Regions from separate parts of the Homo sapiens genome. Here region 2 is reported to be linked to region 1. Evidence: microRNA targets listed by miRTarBase, many of them from high-throughput screens and not tested one by one. Region 1 holds a microRNA gene; the other region holds the end of a gene's coding sequence.

Region 1 (7,119 bases):
AAAGTAAGTAGGCTAGAGCGATAATCACTCTGAATGGAAACCTGGAGAGAGTGCTTTAGGAGCTTGGAGGGGACCACTACCTGAGAGATGAAGGAATACCTCCCAGAAGAGGTAATATTTGAGTTGGACTTCAAAGATGAGGCATTTGGTAATTATGAAGGGGAGACTGTAACTTCCAAGCAGAAAGACCAGTGAGGACAGAGGCACAGAAGCTTATGTGGGTGTTTCAGAGAAGGGAAAACAGTCCATTGTAGCCAGAGTATAAGAGTTCAGGAATAGGACTGTGGTTAGGGTTAAAGTTACCAAAGTAAGTTAGGGTCAAACTCTGAAGGACATAATATTGGAGGCTATTGTGTATGTACTGTGTTTTACACATAGCATGCAACAATAATTGATTAATTAGGTGATATATATTTGTCTATTTGTACGAGTATGTAGCTGTGTGTTGGTATGTGCGTTACTTTTTTTTTTTTTCCGAGATGGGGTTTTTCTCTTATTGCCCAGACCGGAATGGCAATGGCGTGATTTTGGCTCACTGCAACCTCCTAGGTTCAAGTGATTCTTCTGCCTCAGCCTCCCTAGTAGCTGGGATTACAGGCATGCACCACCACACCCGGCTAATTTCGTATTTTTGGTAGAGGCGGAGTTTCTCCATGTTGGTCAGGCTGGTCTTGAACTCCTCACTTTAGGTGATCGGCCGACCTCAGGTGATCCGCCTGCCTCGGCCTCCCGAAGCTGGGATTACAGGCGTGAGCCACCACACCTGACGTGTGTTAACATTTGAAGAACCATTGAGGCCAAGCAAATATCAAAAATTGAAGCCAGAAGGACAGATTGGACCTAAGCTTACCTAGGCTTGGAGCTCCTGAGATGTTCCCCAGTTCCACAAGCCCGTAAGTTAGTCACAGAAAGCCAGCATTGGAAGGGACCTTAGGGACAGTGTTTATACTTACATACATTCAGTTATCCATTCAACAGATGTCTGATACTGCCCATAGAACTGGGATACAGTAATGAACAAAACAAGGACTGCCTTCATGGAACTTGTTATTTATTTATTTATTGAGACAGGGTTTCACTCTGTCACCCAGGCTGGAGTGCAGTGGCATGATCGTGGCTCACTGCAGCCTTGACCTGAGCTTAAGCAATCCTCCCACCTCAGCCTCCTGAGTAGCTGGGACTACAGGCATGCACCACCACACCTAGCTAATTAAAAATTTTTTTTTGTAGAGCCAGGGTCTCCCTACGTTGCCTAGGATGGTCTCAACATCTTGGGCTTAAGCGATCCTCCTGCCTCGGAGGCCTCCCAAAATGTTGGGATTACAGGTATGAGCCACTGTGCCCAGCGTAGAACTTATTTTAATGGGGAAAACAATGAAAAAATTAGTAAATCAATTATGTAATTCTATATGCATTATGAAGAAAGATAAGCAGGAGTAAAATGTTAAAAAGTGGCCAGAGTAGACCTCTCTAAGGAGGAAGATCATTACCAGCTGAGAGAAGGGCAGGTGAAAAGGCCCTGATGCAAGAGCATGTTTGTAGAATAATTAGAAGGCAGCCAGTGTGGCTGGAGTAGCAGCAGTAAAGAGGAAAGAGGCAGGAGATAAGGTTGGAGAGTGGGCAGCTGAGGCCAGAACATAGGGCCCCGAGGTCCATTGGGCTGATGAGGAAATGAAGTTGGCATGTAGCCAGGATCACACAGCAAGTTATGAGCCAGGCCAGGATTGGGAACGTTCTGGTTCAGGCTCCCTTCCTTTGCTCTCTGCCATCTTCTGTCTTTTGGCCAATATTAACTTGAATCCCATTTAATACCTTCATTTTCTTCTCCCTCATGTAGCTCTCTCCCATTTCTCAGACCTACATTTGCTCACATGATTTGGTAATAGAGTGATTTCTGGAAGGTCATGGCTAGAGTGGTCCTTGGACATCTTTTAGTTAAATCCCTGGTATTAGAAATCCACAGAGGGAAATTGGCCTGCTCAAGGCTACTTACCTAGTTAGGAGTAAAACTTGATTTCTTTTCCCCAGTTCTCTTGCCGTCTGGTGTCTGGCTCTTCATTTTCTGTGTGCCGTTCCCCTTTTCTTACAGTTTCCAGCGGAAGGGAATCAAGTTGTGACCCATGTAATTGACACAAGCAGCTAGCAGCATTCCAGGACCCCATGCCACCTGCCCTCACTTTAGCTTTTTGTTTGGTCTTTGTCATGTGAATTTACTGTTTGATTCAGGCCGGTGTCTTTGAACTACTACCCTCTGCAAAGACATGTTGCTAACTCTGCATCCTTGCTCATGCTATTATTTCCACACCTGAACTGGCAGCCTGCTCTTAACCACAGGTCTGTATCCAGGAGGCTTGTCTTTGAAGCCCAGCCCCAGTCTTATCTCCAAAGAAGCAATGTGGAAAGAGGATAAAGTTTGGAGTTGGATATAGTTGGATTTGAATCCCAGCTTTGGCACATGCTGGGACCAAAGAAATCTTAGACAAGTAACTTGACTTCTGGGAGTGGTTTTCCTGTTTGTAAATGAGGCTATTAACACCTGCTTCATGGGGTCATTGGAAGGATTATTTAAGGTATTGTATGTGTACATACTTTAAGCATTGGGTAAAGAGAAACTCTTATTCACTCCTCCTCAAAGGTGCCTTCTGAATGCCCTTTGCCTTTTTCGTAATACTTAATAGGTAACATTTCTTGGGAGGGTTTCTGTGTGACCGGCACTTTGCTAAGTGTCCAGTGCTTTTAAAAGGACTTACCACTGCAAGTGATTCCATAGTTGTCTCCAAATAAAAAGTTAATTTTTAAAAAGCACTGATCTCATTTTTTATATATTTGTTATTCTTGTTGTGTGTAGATAGAGGCCAGGTTAGGATTCAGTATATACCTGTGTTCCAGTTGTTGCTCTGTGATTTTCTAGCTGTGTAAACTTGGACAAGTCACTGGACCTCCACTCTTTTTTTTTTTTTTTTTTTTTTTGAGATGGAGTTTCGCTCTTGTTGCCCAGGCTGGAGTGCAATGGTGTGACCTCGGCTCACTGCAGCCTCCACCTCTTGGGTTGAAGCAATTCTCCTGCCTCAGCCTCCTGAGTAGCTGGGATTATAGGCATGTGCCACCATGCCTGACTAATTTTGTATTTTTAGTAGAGATGGGGTTTCTCCATGTTGGTCAGGCTGGTTTCGAACTACTGACCTCAGGTGATCCTCCCACCTCGGCCTCCCAAAGTGGGGGGATTACAGGTGTGAGCCACCATGCCTGGCCTTGACCTCTATTCTTAATGTGTTTTTCACACTAGAGCCCTAAAATTCAACACTAGTTACATTTGGAAACCTGACTTGCTAATCTGCTGACCTTGGAAAATGTGTCTTTGTTGAATACAGAGCAGTAGTACCTGGGCTGGCCCTGTGTGACTTAGAGCGGACAGTATGGGAGGTGGAGAACTGGGTGCATGGGAGCCATTAGATCAAGAATTGGAAATTCCTCACAAATAAAAGGTTTCTGGGGTAGGAGCAGGGGGCAGTGTTGATGGTGACTCTGCTTGGATTATCTTCTAGGGATGGAGGATTGCCAGCTCCATTGAATGGAAGGACTGGTGATGCGCAGCCACTCTTGCATGTGCCCGGGCAAAAGACAGTGTGTTGGTGGCAAATGCCTAATGTGTCTATGGCTGACCATGGGCCATCTCTGCCATTCAAGACATCAGCTCCTGGCAGAGTTGTATTGGTTTGATAGAGCTTTAGTCTTCGGAGTCGCACAGACCTGAGTTCAAATCCTTCTCTGCCATTTACTGTAATAATTGTGTTCCTTAGGCTGATCCTTTAGCTCTCAGATCCTCTTTTTCCTTTTCTCTAAAATGATGTGGTTGATATCTGCTTTTGAGGTTGTGAGGATTTAAAATAACAGGTAAATAGGTGCCACACAGTACCAGATACTTAGTTGGGTGAGTAGCCTGGTGATCTGTGGCTGTTAGCTCTTTGAAGGCCAGTATCCCTAGGAGATAGCAGCAACGTCAGCACTGCTCTGATTCCCTGACCAACCCCCAACCCCACCTTTGCCCTCAGAAATACCCTGGACCCTTGTTTCCTTCCTCAAGTTCAGACCCCAGAAATGTTGGGCAAGAAGGAGCCTCCAGGCCAGGCTTTATTGTGCCAGATGTTATATCTGAGTAAGCAGGATTGTTACACAGCAGAGATACAGGAGCAGAGCAGGTAGCTCAGGCAGCTGCTGATGAACAAAAGGCTTCTTCTCTCTGTTCCCAATAAATTGGTCCTTGGGGATCCTAGCTTTGAAATTCTAATTGACACAGGAAGGAAAAGATTCATTAGGCTCTGGACTCGTTAAAATGCTCTGCTGCTCACCTACGATTTATTCTTGGCACTTCATCAAGAGGAATTAAGTAAACCAATGGGCTGGGAGGCTCCTGACAGCAGAGTCGTGTGTCTCTCGTGCTCCTGGGGGGATGAGAGTGTTGGGTCTCCTATGCTATGGAGCATATAGCTGGCTTTGGAATCTCCTCATCCCTAGGACTTCACATGAGTCTAAGTCTCATATGCTTTTAACAATGGAGGGACCTTCTGAGATCATACTGTGTAACTCATTTATAGATGGTCCAAAGAAGAACTGGGACTTGCTCAAGATCACGAAACGCATTAGTAGTGGAGTTAGAATTAGAATCAGTCAGGCTGCATGACTTCCAGGTCAAGAATATTTTCTCTGCGGCCGGGCGTGGTGGCTCACGCCTGTAATCCCAGCACTTTGGGAGGCTGAGGCAGGTGGATCACGAGGTCAGGAGATCAAGACCATCCTGGCTAACACGGTGAAACTCCATCTCCACTAAAAATACAAAAAATTAGCCGGGCGTGGTGGCGGGCGCCTGTAGTCCCAGCTACTCGGGAAGCTGAGGCAGGAGAATGGCGTGAACCCTGGAGGCAGAGCTTGCAGTGAGCCGAGATCGCACCACTGCACTCTAGCCTGGGAGACAGCGAGACTCCGTCTCAAAAAAAAAAAAAAAAAATTTTCTCTGCATCACCTTTGGATTTCTACACCCAGTGTTTCATTCATTCAGCCTTCAACAGATACTTTTAACACATTCTGTGTGCCAGGACTCTGTGATAAACAAAACAGCCATGGAGGAAAGTAAATACCTGACCCAGTATTAGGAGAGATTAGAAAGGCCTCCAAGTCTGAGAGATGGATAGGAATTAGCTCAGCAAGGAGAGATGAGGAAGGTTATGGCTGAGGAACTGGCATCTATGAAAGCCAGATTCAGCTTTCCCTTCAGAGCCTGGCTTTGGCATCTATGAAAGCCAGGCTCTGAAGGGAAAGTTGAATCTTGCTAGAGTGGAGAATTGAGGAAGAGATGAGATGTTAAGGCAAGCCGAGTCTATGAGGTTTGGGCCACTGTATGGTTGTAAAGAACCCTGGATCTGGGATTAGGAGTCCTGAGTTCTAGATATGTTTCTGCTACCAATATGTTAGTCATCATTCTAGTAACACTTCACATCTTTTAGGTGTGCCATGATGGGCACTGGGGTACAAAAATGTGTAAGATGTATGTAGTCCCCTCCCTCAGAGATCTGTCAGTTTAATGAGGCAAGCAGGCTAATTAAGAACCCCTGTAGTAAAGGAACAGTTACCTCTGCTGTAAGAAGTCAGAATTGAGCTGTGTGTTACTTTAAGCACTTTCTCTGGGCTTTGATGATCTCACCTGTCAAATGGTAAATAACCACTGTCCTATGTAGCTGGTAAACTGATGAGAAGACAGACAACTTTGTAATGATTGGCGTTTGTTTGGCATTTTGTGGATTTCAAAACACTTTTGACATCATTAATTCATTGAACCTTAACTGCAATCTTATGACTTAGGAAATTTCCCCACAATGTACAGATGAGGAAACTGAGAGAGGTTGAGGCTTGTTCATAGTTTCACAGCTTTTGATTAACAAAAGTTAGGATTATAAATCCAAATCCCGTGCTCTTATTTTGAAAAGTATAAAGATGGCAACCTTTCTTTCTATCCCCTACTTAGTGGCAAATTATCCCCTTCCCCTTTTCACAGTCACCAGAAATGCAGAGAATGTCTGCTGTGTTTGAAAAGCAGATCTAAGCTGACTGGGGAGAAAGAAAGGAGCTTATTTCAGGTCTTCTTCAGGCTGGACTCTAAACTTTTAAGATCATGTGCGCCCGTGCTCCCATCAGCTCCTGCTGTTCCATCTCATGCCATTTACAGAGTGCCATTTACTGAGCCACTACTTCATTGGCTACTCATAGCAACTTGTGGGGTAGACAAAGTGCACTTTACAGATGGGCAAACTGAGGTCCAGAGTCCCTGAATTGTACATGTCAGAACCAGGATTGAATCTAGAAGTCTTGGGCTCCTGACACCAAACAGGTGCTCTTAACTTGCAGAATGTAGGTTCCTTTGATTCAGTTCGGTTCAAACAATTCTTGAATATAACCCATGTGCCAGAGACTTTGCTATGCAAGAGAGCCTCTAGTTAGGCTCAAACCGTCTTGGTCTAGTGCCTTACTTAAGAACAGGGACTTGTATTATTTACTTCTCTGTCCCCAGGCAGGACCTTGATCCAAAAATGCTTTGCTGTTGTTTTTGGCCTTAATCTGCCAGAAACTAGAGGGAGCAGATGGCCACAGCAATGTGGGTTATGAGGATGTGATATCAGGCAGGGTTGAAGGATGAATTGAGAGCCCTGCACCCAACTACTTCTGTGTCTGTGCCTAGGCCCTTGTCAGGGTAGTCTCTATCTGAGAGTGTAGCTGGTCAGCCTGGTCCCATTTCTCATTTCCAGTCACCTCCCCCTCTTGCCATCCCATATAATGGGGTTAGTCTCCTGGACAGATCTCATACAGAGGCTGCTGGGATCTGCTGTCCAAATGACCCTTTGGACCTATTTCCCAGCCATGTTCCAAGATGATGGTGAGGAGTCTAGCCCCACAGCCAGTATGCTATCTCTATTCAGATAACTCCCAGCTCACAGGCCTCCCACCAGGCTCTCACCCACTCTGATGTTTTCACTCCTGACTCCTAAGAAGCAGATTGGCAATTTAGTGTGAGTCTGTCAGACAGCCTAGAGAGTAATCAATACTGAGAGAAATGGACATATTTCCTGT
Region 2 (7,119 bases), not on the chromosome of region 1:
GCCCCAGGAAGTGGAGCTGCGGAGCTGAGGCCTCACCGTGTCTTGGCCCACCCTGCTCAGCTGATAGGAAGGTGTGTCACCTCTTTCCTAATCGGGGAAAGAAAGGTATTGTCACTTCTCAGAATTGGAGAGCGCGGCAAGGAGTGCACAGGGCCAGGTGTCTTCTCGCTCCCACAGCCAAGCAGCAGATGCAGAGTCCCACGCGCTGCCTGTGGCCATCAAGTCGATATAGAGCCTCGTGGCGGCTTGGCCCTTGTGAATCTTCCACGTATCGATGGCGCACCTACCTTGTGCCAGGCGCAGCGGATCCCACAATGTAAAAGAAGAGGAAATACACTGCGACATGTGATATGGAGAGACATGAAACAAATCAGCAGAGGCAAGATCATGGAGTCACTGAAGGCTTTCAAGCAAGGGATTATTAGCAGCCCAATTTGCTGGGTTTTAGAAAGACACCGGCTGCACTGTGGCCGACAGAGGAAAAGCCAGAGACAGGGAGATCCGCCCCCTAAATGGGAGAGGGTGGCCTGAACTAGAGTAACCGCAGGGAGGGTGGAGCGCTGATCATTTCAAGGATCTTCAGGAACTGAAATGATCAGAACTTGGGAATGACTGCATGTGCGAATAAGGGGGAAAAGTCAAGGAAATGCCCAGGTTTGGGGCCCAAGGAACAGGTTTGGGAGGCCGAGGTGAGGAGTTCAGCTTTGGACATAATGAGTTTGAGATGCCCACAGGACATCCAAATACAAATGTTAAAGGGGTAACTGAATATATGTGACTGGAGTTTGCGAAATCAAGGCTGGTGATAGAGATTCTGGAATCTTCTGAAAGCAGATGGCAATTGAAGCTATGGAAATGGATGAGAGAGTGTGTAAAGAGCACGAGGGCCCAGGTTAGAACAGCAAGGGCAGGTAGAGAAGTCACCAAAGGACACTGACCAGGTAGGAGTACGGTGTAACGGCAGCTAAAGAAGGGCGCTTCAAGAGGGAACATCAACAGTGATGAACACTCTGGAGAGAACATGTCACATGTAACGACTGAGAAGTGGCCACAAGATTTAGAAATCAGGGTGGTGGTGGTGACCCGGGCTACAGCAGTTTTAGTGGAGAGAAGGAAATGGAGATAATTGTAGAGAATAATCCAGTGACTTCACTGTGAAGGAGCAATTGGTATCTGGAGGGGCACATGACATTCAGAGACTTATTTTTATCATATTTGAAGATTGGTAGGAAAGAGCCAGGAGAAGAGAGGTTACAGCAGAGGACGGTTCCTGAAGAGGTAGGATCTGAGCTCAAGTAGAGATTGAGTTCTCTACAGGAGGCCTTAGACACTCCTTCCTTCCTAAGGGAAAGCTTAGGTGGACATGTAGCTGTGTTTGTAGGTTTGGTGATGGGAGGTGGAATTTCTTTCATTAACTAAGGCGGGGGAGGTGTTGAAGGTATATTGGGACTCTTGAGAATGGCAAAGGGCTGACTATTGCAACTCACCCAGCGGTAGACAGTTAAGGGAGACCGTGAAATCATCTATGATCCCAATCTATAGTTACCTTATTTTATTTTTGTTTATTTTTGAGACAGGGGGATGGGAAGAGCCTGTCGCCCAGGCTGGAGTGCAGTGGCGGGATCTCGGCTCACTGCAACCTCCGCCTCCTAGGTTCAAGCAATTCTCCCTGCCTCAGCCTCCAGAGTAGCTGGGACTACAGGCGCGCGCCACCACACCCATTTTTTGTATTTTTAGTAGAGACGGGCGTTTCGCCATTTCGCCCAGGCTGGTCTCGAACTCCTGAGCTCAGGCAATCCACCCACTTCGGCCTCCCAAAGTGCTAGGATTACAGGCGTGAGCTAGCGCCTGGCCTATAGTTACGTTACTTTAGATGCCTGGATTCACCAGCTAAGAAGTTTTTTTTTTAATTAAATTTTTTTTTGGCCCCAGTGCTACTACCAAAGCAGTCAGGAAGTTGAAGATAAGGCAGACAACTGGATTGATTCAGGTATATTTAAGTGGGTTGAGGGTTATTGATGAAATGGTTAAAGTTATTAAAGACCAAAGGTGGAGAGGGGTTGAGGGAGACCAAAAGTAGAGTCTAACTGGGTAAAGAAGGAAGTAAAGAAGAAAAGAACAGAGAGGACAAGGGGCTGCAGTCTTAGGTTCAATAACGGGTGTAACTGGAATGTGAGTGAGAGCTGGAAGAAACACCAAAGGTTGTGGCCAGAGAGTGGGATGTCTGAATTTCCTATTTCAGATGTAGAGCAATTCCACATCATGATAGGGTATATGGTGTGGCCATGATAAGGAATGGTGAAGGTTGCTGGAGGTAAAGAAGAAACTGGAAACCTAGGTGTAGCTGGGTTGTCCACATGGCCACTGAGGCCATGCAGTATAAAGGCTTGAGCAGAAGAAAGTGAGCCAGGTGTTAAACCAAAACCATATTTCCCTTCTTTGAAATCAGTTAAGAATTGAGGCACAAAAGCTGAACCAGCATTATATAGCAGTCATTTGTAGAATCTGCTTTGGGTGAAGTCACGTCAGCCTCAATTAGAGGTTTGGCAGTTGTCATGGAAATAAAGGGGACGTCTGTGAAGGTGAGTTACGATGGCATCTGGCTAGATGGGTGAGGAGAGCTAAGAGGTGCTCTGCTGTGAACCATTCAGCCTTTCCCACACGTGACTCAGGAGTAGGGGATATGAGGACTTCATTGCACCAGTGGGGAGGAGAAAAGCCATCCGCCCCATGTGCCACCAAACTGTGCACCTGACTTGTTGCTCCTGCCCACATCCCTGCCTCCTGAAGGGAGAGAGAGGCAGAGTGGGAAGACATATTGCCTAATGGTGAGGGAAAACACAGGGACTGATTCAAATGGCAGGAAACCCCTTGTAAATGTTTGTGGTGGTTCACATTTTATTGAGACAGGATCTCGCCATGTTGCTCAGGCTGGTCTCAAGCTCTTGGATTCAAGCAATGCTCCTGCCTCAGCTTCCTCAGTAGCTGCGCAACTACAGGCCTCATTTTATCTTGTTTTAAATAGAGTCCCACTTAAAAACTCGCAATGGAGAAACAGGAAAAGGGATTTTTAAAAGCATATAAACTAGGTGTATGTGAATAAATACACAGTGTAGCTCTGGGGCTGGTTGTTGGGGCTGGGATTGCGATGGTACCATCCTTCTTGTGAAGGATGTGTTTTTTCTAATTGGGGGATAATTCCAGGTCTCGAATCTGGATGACTAGAACAGGAAGTAGAAAGTGGTTTGAAGAAGCACTAAAAAGTGGGACAATGTTTCAAACACATTGCGCATATCACATTGAAGACCTTGCTCTCTTTAATGTCTTACAAGTTTATTCCCAGGTTAAAAATAATTTAAAAAAAAAACTAGTTACTACTATCAATACTCTGATAATGCAAGTAATCTCGATTTGTTGGGTAGATACTGGAATATCACACTTTCTTAAAATAGTATATTTTACAGTAAATATAGATTAGTCAAGTATCTTTCTGGGTCTCAATGCAAAGTTTGAGAATAGTGACATGTTATTTTTGGACCCAGCAAAATATTTTCTCAACTCTGTAAATGGGTTTAAATTCCACCTCCCACCACTTAATAAACTTTTTTTTTCCTGCCCCGACAGGATCTTGCTTTATCGCCCAGGCTGGAGTACAGTGGTGCAATCATAACTCACTGTAATCTTGGACCCCTGGGCTCAAGCAATCCTCCCCTCAACCTCCCAAGCAGCTACAACTATAGGCACGTGCCACCACAACCCAGCTAATTTTCTTATTTTTCAGAGACAGGGTCTATGTTGCCCAGGCTGGTCTTGAACTCCTGGCCTCAAGTGATCCTTCTGTCTCAGCCTCTCAAAGTGCTGGGATTACAGGTGTGAGCCACCGTGCCCAGCCTAGCTGACCTTTTAATTTCTTTGCCTGTGAAATGGGTACTTCCCTCATACTGATGCTGTGAGAAACAAGTAAGAATGTAGTAAAGTACTCATTGCAGAGCCTAGTAGTCACTTGGGTAGTTATTAATAAACAGCTGTAAGATGATAGTCACACTCTTAACAGTAAATAAGATTATTTATTGGATTCTCCCACATTCAACCTCCACCTCCTGATTAGAACAGGAGAAAAACCTGAGGCCACAAGAAATGATCAAGAAACAAAAGGCTGCGGCAGTTATCACTGCAGTTCCTATGAACTGGTTTAAATCAGCAATGAGGTATTTGTATTTTGTATTGCATTACTCCCATTAAGTTAAACCTCAATTAACTAGAACCTTTGTTCCAAAATGGTGTTGACAGCCAGGCGTGGTGGCTCACGCCTGTAATCAATCCCAGCACTCTGGGAGGCCAAGGCAGCTGAGGTCAGGAGTTCGAGACCAGCCTGGCCAACATAGTGAAACCCCATCTCTACTAAAAATACAAAAATTAGCTGGGCGTGGTGGTGGGCACCTGTAATCCCAGCTACTCTGGAGGCTGAGGCCGCATAATAGCTTGAATCCAGGAGGTGGAGGATGCAGTGAGCCGAGATTGCACCACTGCCCTCCAGCCTTGGCAACAGAGCGAGGCTTCATCTCAAAAAACAAACAAAAAACAAATCAAAATTCTGTTTATATTCACTTTTAGAAGAAAAAGGCAAATGACATAAAAGAGTTTTTTTTATATATATATATATTTATTTATTTTTAAAAACTCCAGGGGATGTCCCAAAGTTAGTAAACAGTTCTGTTTCTTGTCCCTTTTATGGCTGCATGCAGTTTCAATTGTTCAGTACAACAGATGAGGCATTTAAAAGGTCTCCAACGTCAAGAAACACTAACTCATCTCTGGCATATCATATTTTTTAAGGCAGAAGTATTTTCTGTAATGGTTACTACAGAGTGTTTACTGGTTAATTTTTAGTTAACCAGAACCACACATCCCATAGATAATTCCATTTAACTGAGGTTTATATCCGTAAGAGCATTACCATAGAAAAATTTCCCTTTAGCAATTTCAAGAGACCTCAGCCACCAATATACCTACCTTCTTTACAATATAAAGTGAAATATTACTTTAGATGAAAATTTTTTGTATCTTACTTAGAAAAAATTAAGTTGATATTTAAAAGAATTTTGATTTTTAATCACCTTCCACAACGATTTGATATACCTTAAACTCCACTTTCATTTTTTATAAGAGAATCACTTTCAAGGGAAAAAAATGGATGTTACTATATTTTAAAATCTGCTTTATAAAAAAGTGTATAAATATCAATCTGCCAGATATACTTCCTATCCCCAACACAGCTGTAACACTGACTAATGGGGTCATGACCATGAAGCAAATTTTACTTCCTAAATAGAAATGTGTAGGTGGCAGAAAGCGTATTTTTCAGCAGGAGTGATTCTGTTGGATCTCTTTACAATGTCAGAGCAGTTGTTAGAAATGTTAGTATTTTATTCGGTTTCTTGCTGTGAAGGATTATCACAATGTTGAAGTGATGGCTGTTCACCCAGTCGTCATCACCGTCATCATCTCAATCTTGGGAATCATCAGCAGTGTCCCCCACACAGAGAGACAGGTATAGTGGTGCAGTTTAGTGACAGGGAATCCAGTCTTAGATCCTGTTTATATCACATTTTTGTGAATTTACACAAAATTCCATTTATAGCTTTAAAACTGTACTACATAACACATTACTATACTACTACAAAATATCCTTCTCTATAAATGCACTGAATATTTTCTTGGGCATTTTATTAGGCCTTTTTTAGCATTATTACAAATGCTAACAACAAGATACTTCAAACCACCAAATATAAAGTCAGCTTCTTAATTTTCTGAAATTTAGTTATTTGAGTTAATAAGAATTCTGTAGGAATACTGACCCATCTCTTTTCATCCAACCTTCAAAATAGTTAAGCCTATTTGCCCATCTCACCTAACCTTCAAAATAGTTAAAACAAAAACAAACCCAAACTAGCTATATATAACAAGAATCTTTCAATTCCCAAACTATTGAAAGACCCTAAGTCAGCCAATCTATGAAATTATACAAGATGAAGGTGAAAAAGCTGTGCTTTTTTTTAAACCATTAAACCCAGTTCTTTTCTCTTAAAGTTGTAAGAAAATGGAAAATCTGTTTTTAAATCATGCAAAGATTTAAATAAGCATTTTTCTATCTGCTCTAAGAAACTGTTTCTTATCTTACAATTTTAAATATTCATAACACTCAAACTACTTTTTTGTGGCCATTTATGTTTTTGACACTAGATTGTATGGTATTATTTAGCCAAGATGTATTATAATGCTAAATTATGTATAAAATATGATTTCTGGAATTTGTCCATCTTCTATTGAAGTGCCATTATTATTGCCAGGGGAACTAAAAAAGAAAAAAACAGTCTTGCTTGCAGCAGGTGTCTCATGCACTACTTTCTTCAATCCTTTTGTGCCATAGTGGGAATCTGGACCCTAAATGAGAACAAAAGGTTCCTTAGTAATTTTCATTTAATAAGCACTCAGTTTAATGTGGTGTTTTAATTAGATTAATGTTCCATTATATTTCACTATCATTCCTATATAAAATTTTATGCTGTCATTTAGAGAAAAATGAAGTTTTTACCAAAAAACTAATTAATGAATAAAAATACTGAATGTACAGCCCAGCTATTAGAGAATAGTGAAAAGATTTTACAAAAATAACTTTTATTTTCTGCCAAACATTCAACTGCTTACTGAAACAAAGGGCTACTTCTTAAGAAGAGCTATTTCTTTCAGAACAGAGCTGTGGGGAGAAGTACTTCTTTTCGGAAGGCAGTGGAATATTTTAGCTCCCAGCTTCTTTTCCCCCCTCTTTATAAATGGCTCAGCTGTCAGTGACTCTCAGCTTCTAAAACACACATTCTGCAACATTCAAGAGGAAACCATCTGGAACATAGTGCATGACTCTTACTTTGAGTGTTGCACATGCTGTGTAGCACACATTGGGCAGGATCTCTATGGGTTCCTTGAACATGACCCTGAATGTGTTAGCTGTCCCATCACAACTAAAGCCGGTATCATTCTGTCCCAGGGTTTGCTTTTTCTCATATTCAATGATCTGTAATTTTTAAGAGACAAGTTACATTTAAGTTAAACCAAATAAAG

Evidence for each region. Region 1 holds the annotated microRNA hsa-miR-4755-3p (AGCCAGGCUCUGAAGGGAAAGU, at 5,296-5,317, shown strand). A microRNA usually pairs through its seed, bases 2 to 8, with sites in the 3' UTR of a target mRNA and lowers its output. Matches are read on the target gene's strand: a 7mer-m8 pairs with bases 2 to 8, a 7mer-A1 pairs with bases 2 to 7 and ends in A, and an 8mer does both.
Region 2: miRTarBase lists BTBD1 as a target of hsa-miR-4755-3p. The part of its 3' UTR that is shown has no 7-base or 8-base seed match.

The regions. Positions count from the first base shown.
Region 1 is chr20:34,043,867-34,050,985 of GRCh38, forward strand. MIR4755 (microRNA 4755) reads left to right here and starts at 5,253; the gene lies at 5,253-5,324. The region is part of intron 2 of RALY (RALY heterogeneous nuclear ribonucleoprotein); the gene reads left to right. RefSeq lists an enhancer at 1,944-2,752.
Region 2 is chr15:83,011,782-83,018,900 of GRCh38, forward strand. It overlaps BTBD1 (BTB domain containing 1), which reads right to left. Exons shown (of 8, transcript NM_025238.4): 7 at 6,926-7,072; 8 at 4,642-6,444. The coding sequence ends at 6,286. LOC124903542 (a long non-coding RNA gene) reads left to right here. Exons shown (of 2, transcript XR_007064742.1): 1 at 1-1,278. Among named protein-coding and RNA genes, the nearest start is that of C15orf40, 3.7 kb to the left of the region's middle. RefSeq lists an enhancer at 36-95.